2 linked regions of the Homo sapiens genome follow. Each later gene encodes a partner of the first gene's protein in a complex. Each region holds a gene or a part of one and is shown on either strand. Other genes may lie near its edges.

Region 1 (7,273 bases):
GTCAGAAAGTTTGGGGTCCATCACCTCTGTTGCTCCTCCTCCAATCGGACCAGCAGCTCATCCAGGTTTGGCTCCTCCACATTTTCCCACCTCTGGGGGATTGGTCCCTGCGCCAGACAGAGACAAGCCTTACTTACCTCCAAAGAGAACATCACTCAGACCAGTTCCCTAAGGCTCCCTTCCATGGCAGTCCACTTTCTTTTTATTCTTTCTCCCCTTTGTTAGCAATATGCTTCTATTCTCAATCACTGCATCCCTCACTCCAAAAGTAAACTGATGACCTCTCCTGAAAGACGGCCTTCAGTAGTAAATAGAATCTTCAACTTAAGAAGTGATGTATCTTTCACTAATGGCCTTAACTTCCACTACACTAACGGTTTGACCTTGGGAAGTGACTTAACTTCTTTCATTTTTTTTTTTTTTTTTTTTGGAGACAGAGTCTCGCTCTGTCGCCCAGGCTGGAGTGCAATGGCACAATCTCAGCTCACTGCAACCACCGCCTCCCAGGTTCAAGTGATTCTCCTGCCTTAGCCTCCCAAGTAGTTGGGATTATAGGCACCTGCCACCACACCTGGATAATTTTTGTAGTTTTAGTAGAGATGGGGTTTCGCCATGTTGGCCAGGCTGTTCTTGAATTCCTGGCCTCAAGTGATCCACCCACCTCAGCCTCCCAAAGTGCTGGGGTTACAGGCATGAGCCACCACACCCAGCCTGTGAAGTCACTTAACTTCTTGGAGCTACAGTGTCTCCAGCTACAAAATGAAAGCGGTATATCGTTCCCTTCAGAAAGTTGCTGTGCAGGTTAAGAGACACAATTATAGATGCTCCTTGACTTATGCTGGAATTTCATCCCATAAATCCATCATAAGTTGAACATAAGTTAAAGGTGTGTTTTCAACTTACGACGTTTTCTTTTTTTCTTTTCTTTTTGAGACAGTCTAGTTCTGTTGCCCAGGCTGGAGTGCAGTGGCATGATCTCGGCTCACTGCAACCTCTGCCTCCTGGGTTCAAGTGATTCTCCTGCCTCAGCCTCCCGAGTAGCTGGGATTACAGGCACGCACCATCATGCCCGGCTAATTTTTTGTATTTTTAGTAGAGATGGGGTTTCACCATGCTGGCCAGGTTGGTCTTGAACCCCTGACCTTGTGACCCACCCACCATGACCTCCCAAAGTGCTGGGATTACAGGCATGAGCCACTGCGCCTGGCTGACATTTTCAACTTATGATATTTTCAACTTAACAGTGAGTTCGGGCCAGATGCAGTGGCTCACACTTGTAATCCCAGCAGTGGGAGGATTGCTTGAGTCTAAGAATTTGAGACCAGCCTGGGCAACATAGAGAGACCCTGTGTCTACAGAAAATAAAGAAAATTAGCCAGATGTTGAGGCATGTATCTGTAGTCCCAGCTACTTTTTGGGAGGCTGAGGTGGGATGATCGCTTAAGCCCAGGAGGCTGAGGCTGCAGTGACTCATGACTGCACCAGTCCACTCCAGCCTGGGCGACAGAGTAAGTAGGACCCTGTCTCAAAACAACCAACCAACCAAACAAACAAAAACCAACCAAACAAGCAAGCAAAACAACCCCAAACAATGGGTTTATCCAGCTGTAACCCCATCATAACCCAAGGAACATACTGAATGCATATAGCTTTCACATCATCATAAAGTTGAAAACTTGCAACCATCCTAAGTTGGGGAGGACCATCTGTATATGACAGTGCCTCATGCTGCCTGGACTGCATTGAGGGTGCTCAATAAGTTTTGGTTCTTTCCTTCCTCTGAGAGAACTTTTCTGAGGAAAATGTGAGGAGGTACTGAGAGGCAGCTGGAACAAAGGCAAATAAATGGGTTTTTCAAAGCCAGTTCTAATAGCACAGACATCCCTTTGCTGCAGACATGCTGTAGGCTCGCAAAGGCCTGCATCTTTCTAAAAGAAACACTGACACCTGCTGGAGGAAACATGCACTTCTTCCTGCTAATCCCACACTCCTTCCAATCTAATTTACATTTCGTCCTTTGAAAACCAAGGGTTGGAATCTGACAGGCCAGCTAGGTCCAATGAAGATATCAGTGTGATAAACCTCTCAGAGGCTGAGAAAGAGAGCCTTCCACCAAACACCTCACTTGTACACTCCAACCTCCCTCAGTCAACAAATGAAACCTAACAAGTATATTCACTGAGGACCCAGGGGGTGCAGAGAGCTCAGCCTCACTCACTCCAGTGGCTTCTAGCCGCTTCTCCAGCTCTTGGCACCAGCTTCGGTACTGCAGCACCTGCAGCAAAAAGAACAGGCCCTGGGCAATGAACACAGCTGGCACAAACAGCCCAAAGCAAAGGCCCCTGAGGATCTTAGGCAAACTTGCTATGAACAGGGGAAATGGGTGGTGACAGTAAGGTAAGGCCATAACATCTTATAGTTTCTATTTGGGCATTTTTTTCTTTTTTGAGATGGAGTCTCGCTCTGTGTCCCAGGCTGGAGTGCAGTGGCACAATCTTGGCTCACTGCAACCTCCGCTTCCCAGATTGAAGTGATTCTTCTAACTCAGCCTCCCGAGTAGCTGGGATTACAGGCATGCGCCACCACACTCAGCTAATTTTTGTATTTTTAGTAGAGACAGGGTTTTGCCATGTTGGCCAGGCTGGTCTCAAACTCCTGACCTCAGGTGATACACCTGCCTCGGCCTCCCAAAATTCTGGGATTACAGGCATGGGCCACCGTGCCTGGCCTTATTTGGGCATTTAAATAATACTTTCTATATGAGCGAGACTCTGTCTCAAAAATAAATAAATAAATAAATAAATACTTTCTATATGCCTTTTATATCACAGAGGCAAGATCATGGGCTTTGGCTCTAGACTAGCTGAAGAAACCTGGATAATTAACTTAACCCTTGTGAATTTCATCTTTAAAGAGATATATTAGCCAAAAGTGGTGGTGTACACCTGTGGTCCCAGATACTCCAGAGGCTGAGGCAGGAGGACTGCCTGAGCCCAGGAGGTTGAGGCTGCAGCGATCTGTGATCATACCACTGCACTCTAGCCTGGGCAACAGAGCAAAACCCTATCTCAAAAATAAAATTAAATTAAAAGGATATAATACGTACCTCATGGAGCAGTTGTGAGCATCAAAAGAGAAGCTGTACATGAAAGCTAGAAGGTCTGGGTCTTATCTCACCATGCTAGATGTAGGCCACTCCCACCACAAGACTCTGCCTCCTGCAACCCTTATCTCACCTCAGCACCTAGCTCTGGGGGTTGTTCTCTTTCCCCTCCCCAAAAGGGCAGCTGCCTCACCTTGGCCTGCAGCTTCCTCACAAGGGTTGCTTGTCTCTGCTGGGCCTCCTGGGAGTTCTTCAGCTTCCGCCAGGAGGCTGCCTGATTCTCTGCCATCTGCTGCTGTAGTGCCAGCACCTGCTCTTCCAGTACCAGCTGCAGTGACTGGGGCTTCATGTTGTTCAACCCAGGGCTTCTTGTCTCCATGAGGGCACCAGGTGGTAGGCCCACAGGTCCCTAGGTAGCCAGAGGGTGTTCACGCCCAGCAGGGTCTCTAACCATTGCCATGCCACTTCAACCTCCTCTTGAACTGGGGACCAAAGCACATAGTCAAATGGAAAGGACTGTTCTTTTACTACACACAAGACTCCTCAGAACCTTTAAAATACTAAAAGGGACCCTCATCTCTGAAGGGCGCTATGATGAGCATCATTCCCCAAATTTAACTGACCATGAGACAAGCTCACAGGACTAGTGTCTCCTGGCATGACTTTTGGAACTCTGCACTAAACCAAGAGCTCCTGGTTTATCACTGCATCCTTAGTTCCTGGCACAGTGGTTCAGAAACATTTGTTGAATGAATCGCTGAAGGTGTTCTTAGTCTAGCAGGGGAAATAGACACAAACTATTACAATACATACAATGTAGCATGTGAAATAATAAGATAATATGAGAAAACAAAGGAAGAGAACCCAGCCTGGGAGCCTGTGAACTGTGTGAATCATCATCATCATTGTTAACACTTGCTGAGTGCTTCTGGAGGGCTGTTGCTTTAAGTGCTTTACATGCATTACGTCATTTTGTTTTTACAAAAATCTTGAAACCTTCCAATGCCTTCTCATTACACTTCACCAAACGTACTATTATAACTCTTTATATATAGATGAGGAAACTGGGGCTTAGAAAGGTTAAAAAACTTGTGCCAGGCCACACAGCTGGCATATGGTTGAGAGAGATTTGAACACAAGTAGTCTATCTGACAAAGAAAAGGGGTAGCAGGCATTTCAGGCAAAGGATCCAAAAGAGAGAAGGAACCAGTGGCAGCAGGATGGCCAAACCCCCTCACCCACCAGGAGCTGGGCCAAAACAGGGCAATGGGCCACCACAGGCAGAGGCGGCCAGCCTAACGGTGACCTTCATCAGAGATACCCAGGACAGGGGAAGGCATGGTGGTAAAGAGTTCTGGGTGTTAGTCCAAGCTCTGCCTCCAATGGGCTCTGTGACCTCAGATGTGCTACTTCCCTCATCCAGAAATGAGGGTATCATGACCTCTGAGTTACTTAGGCCTCTAAAACACACAATTATCCCATAACCTGGGCCAGAGGAAGAGTTCTCTCATTTTATTAACCCTAAGACTCTCACCAGCAGGGCTAAGGAATATCCGTATTTTCAACTACCTATCAACAAAATGGTATATACAGCGAATGCAAACCTAACATTTGCACATACAGTAGAAATTTCAAGGGCCCCAAATCCCTTTAATGCACCAAACTATTGATTTCCCACATCCTGGCTCAAATGCCACGTCCTATCATGTCCTCCCAGATGAACCCAGGAAGAGTTAGTCACTTTTATAGCTATATACACAGAGAGAATACATATGTTCTGATGTCTACTCTACATCTTATCATCATTACTTGTCTATTTTCTCTGCTAATCCATGAGTACCTCAAAGGCAGGAGCTGTCTAATTCATTTTAATTGTAACTTGTCAACAATGTCCAGTGAAGAAATGCATGTGAGCCTCACTCCTGGCAGAGCTAAGCCATAAGCCAGAGATGACAAATCAGTGCCCTGCTAGCTCTTTTCAGCCATTGTGTGGCCCACATAATAGTTTTTAAGAATTCAAATTAGGTGCCAACATTTATCATTGGGAGAATGTACATAAAATCCATATTTCTGGCTCCTTTGGAAAATCAGAATACCCAGTGATGCTTGACCCATATTTCAATAAGGCAACAACCAGCTGCACAGTTGAATAGTGCCTGCCCGTTTAGACAGGGCACGCGCTCCGTGCAGTTGAACAGCGCCTGTCTCCTTTAGACAGGGCGTGTGCTCTGCACAGTTGTATAGTGCCTGCCCCCTTTAGACAGGGCATGTGCTCTCCAGTTCATCATGGCCTCCCCTATGCACACACCGATTCTCTCCCTCACAATGATAGCATATTTCAGTTGTCATTTATCATTGCAACTGTGCTATTGTTTCTGTTATAGTAGCATTAAAGAGGAAAACTCGGCTTACTAATTTACATTACCTCCTGAACAACCGAAGATACTTGAGTTTGCAGAGCCTGTACTAGGCAGTAAGGAAAGTGCATAAAGTAGGGAGAATAGAATGGCACCAATAAAGGTTTGGTGGCACCAGTACTCCAGGCCTCTTCCTAGCCTACGAACCAGGGGAATACAACCTTTCCCCATACTATTACACCCTCCTTTTCAGCCTTTTTGCCAAGGCTGTGTGACCAACTCACCATGGTGCTATGAAATGTTGGCTCTGTTGAGTTCAATGAAGCTCAATCCCTCTCTGCTGGTTGGAGGCACAGATCTTCCAGGAAACTATTCTCTTATCCCAGGATTTCTGCCAACAACTCTACCTACAATAATGTAGATCCAAGTTACTCCAAGGGAACTGAGGAGCCTTTTCTCTCCTAGTATGGTGAGGGCTGAGCCGGGCTTTTGCATGCAGTGGGAGTTTATGAGGTCTCAAAGGCCCCCTCACACTTTGTTGAATCCCTATCCCAAAACATTAGGTTGAACCATATGAAATTGCTAATATTATCCTATTATTATTATTATTTTTAGAGAAAGGATCTAGCTCTGTCACCCAGGCTGGAGTACAGTGGTGCAATCATAGCTCACCGCAGCCTCAAATTCCTGGGCTGAAGGGATCCTCCAGCCTCACCCTTCAGAGGAGCTGAAGATGTGTGCCACCGAGGCTTTTTTTTTTTTTCTTTGGTAGAGACAAGGTTTTGCCATGTTGCCTAAGCTTGTCTCGAACTCCTGGTTTCAGACAGCCACCCCCTGGTCCAAGCCTCCCAAAGCAATGGCATTATAGGTGTGAGCCACCAAGCCCAGCCTCACTCATTACTTTTTATCTACAAAAATGGCAATTTCACATCATTCAACCTAATATCTCTAATAAGCAGTCCTGCCACACATAGTTCCATGAATTCTCATTAAGTTTTCTTTTAGGATATGGCTGTCAGTAACTTGCAAACATGATTTGGCAAGGTGGTATTAGTAATACTTAAGCAAATAAAGAAAATTATATTACAATTATATAATTATTTTACTTTAGCAGATAATTAAAAAATTTTAAAGCTATTTAGAAATTTAGTCCACCCCCCTCATCTTGCAGATAAGGAAACTGAGGCTTGTAGAGATAAAGCAACTTCATTTTGTTTATATTTTTATATGCCCCACTTATCTCAAAAAATGATTTGCATGGCCAGGCACAGTGGCTCACACCTGTAATCCCAGCACTTTGGGAGGCTGAGGCAGGCGGATCACTTGAGGTCAGGAGTTCGAGACCAGCCTGGCCAACACTGTCCAGCCTGGGCGACAAGAGCAAGGCTCCATCTCAAAAAAAAAAAAAAAAAAAAAAAAAAAAGATTTGCATTATAGCAAATATACCATACTAAAAGGGGAGACTGGGTGCAAGGTATACAGGAACTCTCTGTACTATGCAATTTTTCTGTAACCCTAAAATTGTTGTAAAAAATAGTTTTAAAAAATGATTTAAAGTTTTTTAAAACCAAAACAATCCTCATAAAACTAAAATTTATTAAAACAAGAATAAAAGAGAAGAGACAGAGAAAAATTATCTCAGGAATCTTTCTGAAATTCAGATTTCATTCTGAGCTTCCTCAAGACACAGTTCAGCATCCTTTTACAAACACACTGCCAGATCAGATCTGCTAGGAATAAACTAGCAGAGCCCCCAAAGGGAAAGTAAATTTCAATGTGCCTGAGAAAGGGAAAAGAGCAGTAGCTGGCAAAC
Region 2 (7,273 bases), about 34 Mb from region 1:
GGTGGAAGTAAGGTGGCCAAAATCTCCCCTTAGCCATCACAGGTGTGCAGAGCACAGACTGACCTTTACCACATGGATGCTTTAAATGCCACTAATGGCTGTCAGTCACCTTGATGTCACTCTCAAGGGTCCCTCTGGTGACTTCCGTGACCTTCTGGCAGAGCACAGCATGAGCAAGGCCTCAAAGGAATGCCTGCACTACCTCTGTGGTACCAGAGGGAAAATACAAAGTTCACTATCACCAGCTAAGCATCTCCTAGGAGCATGACAGGCATTGAGGTGGGAGGGAGGTGGTGGAAAGGTAAGCTGCCAAGTAAGTGCCTTTAGGAGCCAGGGAATTCTCATGGCGCCTCCCTGCTGCCTCCAGTAGCTTCGTCATCTTTACTGTTAGCTTGTCCTGGCACACAGCTAGGTTTAGACCTCTTTTACTTACTTCAGCAGGCCGTGTGCCTGCCATTGTGAGAGCAGCCCCAAGGGGATTGAAGGAATGTTTTCTTTTTTCTTCTTAAAAAGTAACTAACTGGACATTTTGTCCTTGGGATCAGGTTTAAGTCAGGTATAGCCTCCCGGTTTCTGACTGAGAAAAACCAGGAGCCCCTCAACCTCATGTCCTCAGGAGGTTGACTGGGAAGGCTGCTGAGGCTCCCGGGACAGGTGTGGCCACTTTGCTGCAGCCTCCCTCAAGCCCCTTGCTTTTCCTTAGCTTTGTTCCCCCCTCTCCTCTGCTTTATTCCATCCACTCCCTTGCTAGGTATCTCTTGGTTGGTGATCTGATGTCTGGAGGGAGGCTCACCCTCAGCAGAGATGCCTCAGATGGCTTCCCCTGACGTGTGCTGTCTTGAGGCACACAGGCTGTAACTGTTGGGCAGGGCTGCAACAAGTCCCTTTGCCTTCCCACAGCAGATGTTTTTTGAGCAACAGCAGCAAGCCAGGCTCTAGGGACATGGCTAGTGAACTAAATAGACAAAGACCTGATCTGGTGGGGCTTTGCTTATGATGAGGAGACTGATAGTATGGCCATGGAGCACATCAGGTAGTAAGAAGCGCTGGAGAGATTAAAGCAGAGTGAGGGATGGGAAGGGAAGTTGGCTGCTTTTCGTGAGGGTGATTGGAAAAGGCCTCTGAAAAAAATGGCATTTTAACATTCACTCAAAGGACATTGGAGAGGGAGCTACAGGGCTGTCTAGAGTATCCAGGCAGAGGGAAGAGCTAGTGCAGGACCCTGAGGCTGGAGCCTGCTCGGTGCATTAGAGGAACAGTAAGAAGACCGGTGCGTTAGAGGAACAGGAAGTGGATTGTGTGAAAGGGTATGTGGCAGGAGATGAGGGGATGGTGGAGCCTCGTTGGTTTTTATAAAAACGTTGCCTTTTTCTAACTCAGGTGAGAGCCACTGGCTGGCTTGGCTTTTAATGCCCGCCCCCGCCCCCCCAACCCACGCTCCTTCTGGCTACTGTGTGGACAATGGGCTTTTGGGGGCAAAGGCAGAAACAGGACACTGGTTGTATCCCAGGTGTGTGGAGTGCCAGCTCAGGCAGTGGGCAGAAGTGGTGCCAGGTGGACAGTGATCCCCAAAGAGCATGTGGGTTCTTCGCTGTGTTCTGATCTTGACCCTGCCATACAACGGGCTATGAGAGCTTGAACAAATTGTCCCACAGTTCCCAGCTTCCACATGCTGTCTATAAAATGGGAGTAACGATGCCTGCTGTGAAGCAAATGCCTATCGAGACTACCCAGTTGTCTCCAAAGTGTTGCTCTTTTTTAAAACCACAGTTCCATTGAGCCTCACTCATCGCAGTTGTTATGTCTGTAATCTCAGTCTAGAAGAGTCCTTACGCTGTTTTTTTCTTAATAACTCTGATTTCTTCAAAGAGAGCAGGCTAGTTATAGAATACTCCACATCTGTCTTACTGTTTTCTCATGGTATTGTTTAACTTGTTCCCTGCCTTGATTTTCTGAACCGGATGTTTAATCTTTTAAGTGTCTGAATAGATTCCGTTTAAACATTTTAGTGTGAGTACTTCATCCTCAGCACACATGGGAAACATCACTAGTTGTGATGCTAAATTTGATCTTTTCTGTAAAGGTACATTTTTCCCTTTGCATTTAGCAGTGATCTGTGGAGTGCTTAGGTAGCCATAGATGGTCTCTTGCTCATCAGCCTTTCACCTAGTGGTGTTTACACCATCTGATCATTCTCCCCTGAAGAAGTCACTGGCATTCACAAAGTGTTGATTTTTAAAATTCCTTCATTCTTTCTAAATTTATTAGCTGTTATCCTTCTATAAGATAAGGTAAAGTAATTCTTTACCTTTAAATACCAAATTTTATTTTTATTTTTTGAGACAGTGTCTCTGTCACTCAGGCTGGAGTGCAGTGGCTTGATCATGGCTCACTGTAGCCTCGACCTCCCAGACTCCCATCCCGGCCTCCCATCCGGCCTTCTGAATAGTTGGGCATACAGGTGCATGCCACCTGTCCTAATTTTTGTATTTTTTGTAGAGACGGGTTTCGCCAGGTTTCCCAGGCTAGTCTCAAACTCCTGGCCTCAAGTGATCCACCCTCCTTAGCCTCCCAAAGTGCTGGTAGTACAGGCATGAGCCACCGTGCCCAGCCTTTAATTACCAATTTTTAAAATGAAAAATGAATGTTAACTGATGGGGTATTGCCATTCCCAGTGGGGGCAAGTGACTTTTTCCCCCTCTATTTGCTTTGACTGTACTGTGGGCTGAAATTTTTTGTCAGGGCCTTAAGATCAATGATACCCATTATTCTTTTTGATGCTAATATCATCCTAAATTTGGCCAGTAGGAGCCCTTTAAGCTGGCTCCAGTACCTTTTTGACAGGCTCCCACCATTCCTTCATCCATTTCTCGGTTTCACTACTCTGGTCCAATTATCAGCCATCTTTCAAAGAGCTCTGGTTCCTTTCAGTGGGGTCCATGACCTTTTTTTTTCTTGGTAACAGCTTTATTGAATATAATTTACATACCATAAATTCACCTATTTACTCATAGATGTTTTAACTAGAACATTTTTAGGCTTAAACTGATTTTTATGAATTACTGAGGGGTTTATTGTATCCATAAACTGGAAATCATTTGTCTGCCTTGGAATTTTCTCTAAAAATATTGTCACCTGCTGTTTCCCATGGAAGAAGCCAAGGTTATGAATAACTTAATCACATAGCATTCAGTTCTCCCTTTGGTGCTCATGGTGACATTTGTTTATTTTTACTTCTATTTTTTCTTCTGTTTTTTTGTTTTCTTTTCCTGCTAAAAAGCTTAACCAAGTCTCTGCATTCCCTCCCCTGGACCCCTTTGATTTTGACCAGGTGTATTCTAGCAGTGCAGAAAGTCGGGGAGGTAGAAATAACCAGTTCTTAGATGCTACTGTCTCTTTCTGTTACATTTGCTCTTCCTCTCCCAGGAGCTCAAGCCACCTTGGCCTGCATTCATTCCTCGAATGCTCCAAGCCTTTTCCCACATGGAGGTCTCTGCCCCTTTGCTTAGGTGCCACCACACTGCCCCCACTCCCCACTGCATGACAGGCTCTTTTCTTTATAGCACAGCTTAAGTAACACTTTGGATGCATACATGCATGCTTCTAATTCTGCAACAATGCACCCATCTATTTTCTTAGCCCCCATCATAGTCAGGATCCGTGTAGTTAAACATCTGCTCTTTCCCCAACCGACTGAAGGCTCCAGGAGGCCAGACCCACACTAGTGTTGTTCTCCAAGGTCTCCCCATCAGTCTTGGCATAGAGTAGCTATTCAGTGACTGTTTGAATGAGTGGCCAGTTAGGACCTGGCATTCCCTCGGTCACTCAGTGAATATATAAGGAGCTGGGCAAAGCCTCAATGTTGCCCTCAAGAAGCTTACCCTGTAGGGAGTGGTCAGTTACAATGAAAGTACCTCAGGCAACCTACACCTATAGGCTAGAACTTCTTGGAGGAAGTGCCATTTGGTCTTGGGTGTGTATGGTGCAGTCAGGCAGGAGGAAAGCGTCTTCCAGGTATATACACAGGCCAGGAGGAGAAAAGGGTACCTTTGATATTTCTGTAAGTACTTGATGAATGTCTGCTATGTACAAGACACTGTCCTGGCTACCAAGAATTTAGGAGTGAAGAAGACACAGTTCCTGCCTTCATCTCACACTGTAGTGGAAAAGACATAATAAATATGATTAATAAGCAAGACTGTTGTGTATAAGCTAGTAAGTGTTAAGGAGGGAATAGGAAAAGGTTGAGGTTTTAGATAGATTGGCAAAGGCCTCAATGAGAAAGTGACATTTGAGCAAAGACTTGAAGGAGGTAAGGATGTAACCTATGTGACTGTTTGAGCAAGATCATTTTAGGCAGAGAGAACAGCAAATGCAAAGGCCCACGGGTGGAGGTATCCCTGGTGTGTATGTAGAACATAAGGAAACAATGTTCTGGGACTGGAAAAGTACAAGAGTAATCAGAGGTGAAGTCAGAGGGATGGTGGTAGGGGCGGAGGCTTGACACTTCTTAGAGGGTCTTGTAGGCCATTTTAAGAGTTTTATCTCCTGAGATGGGGGAGTCACAGGAGTTTTTCAGCCGAGGGGTAGTAGGGTCTGGCTGCTGTGTCAGGTTTAGACTGTAGGAGAGCAAGAGCAGAAGCAGGGAGACCAGGGAGGGAGTTGTAATAATAGTCTGTAACAGAGGTCCAGAACTCATGCCTTTAACCATTATACCCTATAGAAAATGCATATTTCTACCACTTCCAGCTAGCTATTGTTAAGTGGTATTTCTTTTGATTTTTTTGGAGATGGAGTCTCACTCTGTCGCCCAGGCTGGAGTGCCCTGGTGCAATCTCGGCTCACTGCAACCTCTGCCTCCCGGGTTCAAGCAGTTCTCCTGCCTCAGCCTCCCAAGTAGCTGGGACTACAGGCGCACGCCACCATGCCCGGCTGATTTTTTGTATTTTAGTAGATACAGGGTTTCACCATGTTGCCCAGGCTGGTCTCAAACTCCGAAGCTCAGGCAGTCCACCTGCCTCAGCCTCCCAAAGTGCTAGGATTACAGGCGTGAGCCACTGCACCCGGCCTAGTGGTATTTCTTTCTCCCCCTCCCCATGCGATATAATGTGGTAGTAACTCCTCTTATTTATACTGTGATTAAAGTGGAAAATGGAGAGACACACCCACAGGGCATGCATTCTGGTCTGTGTTCTTTTTATTGCCGTTGGATCCTGCATATTCTTCCCATCATGGGCCCTGCCTTTGAAAATACACTTTTGGTTATAGGATCTAAAGGGATTTAGCCAAAGGTTAGAAGCATTTCCATACTGCGTATGGGAAATGTGCTTGCACTGTTGGTGATCTCAGGAAAATGATAGTGAGAGTGAGCTGGTTCCCTCTTTGGGTTGGCACTTGGACCTTTGGTCATACCCCTCACTCATAAGGAGTTCTCAGAACCCCACTTCAGGGAGGTTGTGCTGGAATACAGCCACAGAGACCCAGAAATGGAATAATAAGAATGTAAGATTTGAATTTGTATCTTTTGCCTATCTAAATGTAGAATCCCTTTTTACCCATCATGATTGAGACAAGTGGGTAGTTGGTATGCTAACATAAAAGTGACATGGCTTCTGTAAACATTTGATTTCAAACTCTAACATAAATCATTTGCTAAAGGACTATGTCTTTATCTTTGAGGATGGCTCTGCTAGTGGAGTTTCCCATCATAGTTCTTGCAAAAACCAATTTGACCTTTTTTAAAGTAGAGCAAAGAGTATTGTGAGAACATTTAAAAACCAAACCTTTCCAGATTTTTAAGATTTCTTTCTCTAAATGTAGTCTCCCATATGATTATTCACTAGCAATAGTTTTTTAGTGACTTGCCTTTATTGAGTCTTTCCCAGGAGTCAGCTAGAACCGCTGTTTGTATTCACACTCATTTTATTGATTTACATACTATTTAATTACATTATATTTACACAGTAAATATAGCTACCATAAATGGATTTGGGGACAAACACAGCTAACCACTCCTCCCTTTGTGAACACAGAACTCATATGGGAATGAAGAAGTGATCATGAGCTAGAGACTAAAGCATGAGGGGAGTGCTCTTCACTATGCTGGGGTACGAAGGCTGTGAGTTTTATGAGTCTCCAAGTAAGGCAGCTGAGTAAAAGGTGGTTAAGAGAACTTCTGTGTCTAATAAGAAGAGGGAAAGCAAACAGCTAAACCATTAGACCTTGAGCCATACGCCCATCTGGGAATGTTCTGAGTGGCTTCAAATGCAAAGCTGCAGAAAAATACTGGCTCCCCCTACCTCCACCCATTCAACCATTACACCTTTTTTTTTTTTTTTAAGAGACAGAGTCTCGTTCTGTTGCCCAGTCTGGAGTGTACTTGTGCGGTCATAGCTCACTGCAACCTCAAACCTCTGGGCTCAAGTGATCTCCCACTTGATCCACTCAAGTAGCTAGGACCATGTCTGGCTAAATTTTTTTTTTTTTTTTTTTAATTTTTTGCAGAAACAGGATTGGGGACATGAGTCTTGCTGTGTTGCCCAGGCTGGTTGCAAACTCATGCCAGTCTCAAACTCCTGGCCTCAAGTGATTCTCCTGCCTTGGCCTTCCAAAGCACTGGGATTACAGGCATGAGCCTCCTCCGCAGCTGGCCTCATTGTACTTTTTGTCATTAAGAAACTCACCTGCGTGTTGAAAGTAGAAATCCTTTTCCCTCTCCAAACTGTAAATGGCAAGGACTTTATTTTATTTTGAAGGTTTGGGGCTTAGGATATTCTGGTTTTTTGTTATGTTTGATTTTTGGTTTAGTTTAGTCATTTTTTTTTTTTTAATCTTAAAACTTCCCATATTTTGTCCCTGTAAAATGCTGCCTATAGGAAACACTCCTGCAAAGATTCATGAGCAACTATAAACTGCATTGTGAGTCATGAGCTTTCACTACAAGTAGTGAAGCCATAAGTCTGTAGAGGTGCCTTCTTCAGTCCTGTTACCCAGTAGAAGGTATATGGCACTCTGCCCTTCCCCAAAGCAGAGTGCCTTGGAAGTGACTCCATTTCTATTGGGTTATTAGTGAAATAGTATCCCAGTGGTCCTTGTGAATCTCCAGGTCCTGGTCTTGAGTCTTAACCACCGCTTCAGTGGCTTGAGCCAACCACCAGGAACACAGTCTGGGGATACTTTGCTGCCCAGGAGCTGCTGGCCAGGTCTCCCTCTGCTGATTCCTTGAAAAGCAACAGGAAAGAGCAGGCTGCTGTGGAGTAGACAGACTTGAGAC

What was found.
Region 2: the proteins of CEP250 (region 1) and FKBP1A are in contact, whole or in part, in a crystal structure (PDB 6OQA), measured with the Homo sapiens proteins. Residues at the interface, in NP_009117.2 of Homo sapiens: Gln2191, Met2195, Gln2198, Val2201, Leu2202, Asp2205, Ser2206, Gln2208, Gln2209, Gln2212; in NP_000792.1 of Homo sapiens: Gly20, Thr22, Asp38, Arg43, Lys45, Phe47, Lys48, Phe49, Met50, Lys53, Glu55.

The regions. Positions count from the first base shown.
Region 1 is NC_000020.11:35,458,577-35,465,849, reverse strand, and holds part of CEP250 (centrosome-associated protein CEP250), read right to left. Parts: intron 5,868-7,273; 5' UTR 5,745-5,867; intron 3,586-5,744; 5' UTR 3,483-3,585; coding exon 3,297-3,482; intron 2,276-3,296; coding exon 2,219-2,275; intron 108-2,218; coding exon 25-107; intron 1-24. UniProt on the Homo sapiens protein: Plays an important role in centrosome cohesion during interphase. Recruits CCDC102B to the proximal ends of centrioles. Maintains centrosome cohesion by forming intercentriolar linkages.
Region 2 is NC_000020.11:1,382,904-1,390,176, reverse strand, and holds part of FKBP1A (peptidyl-prolyl cis-trans isomerase FKBP1A), read left to right. Parts: intron 1-7,273. UniProt on the Homo sapiens protein: Keeps in an inactive conformation TGFBR1, the TGF-beta type I serine/threonine kinase receptor, preventing TGF-beta receptor activation in absence of ligand.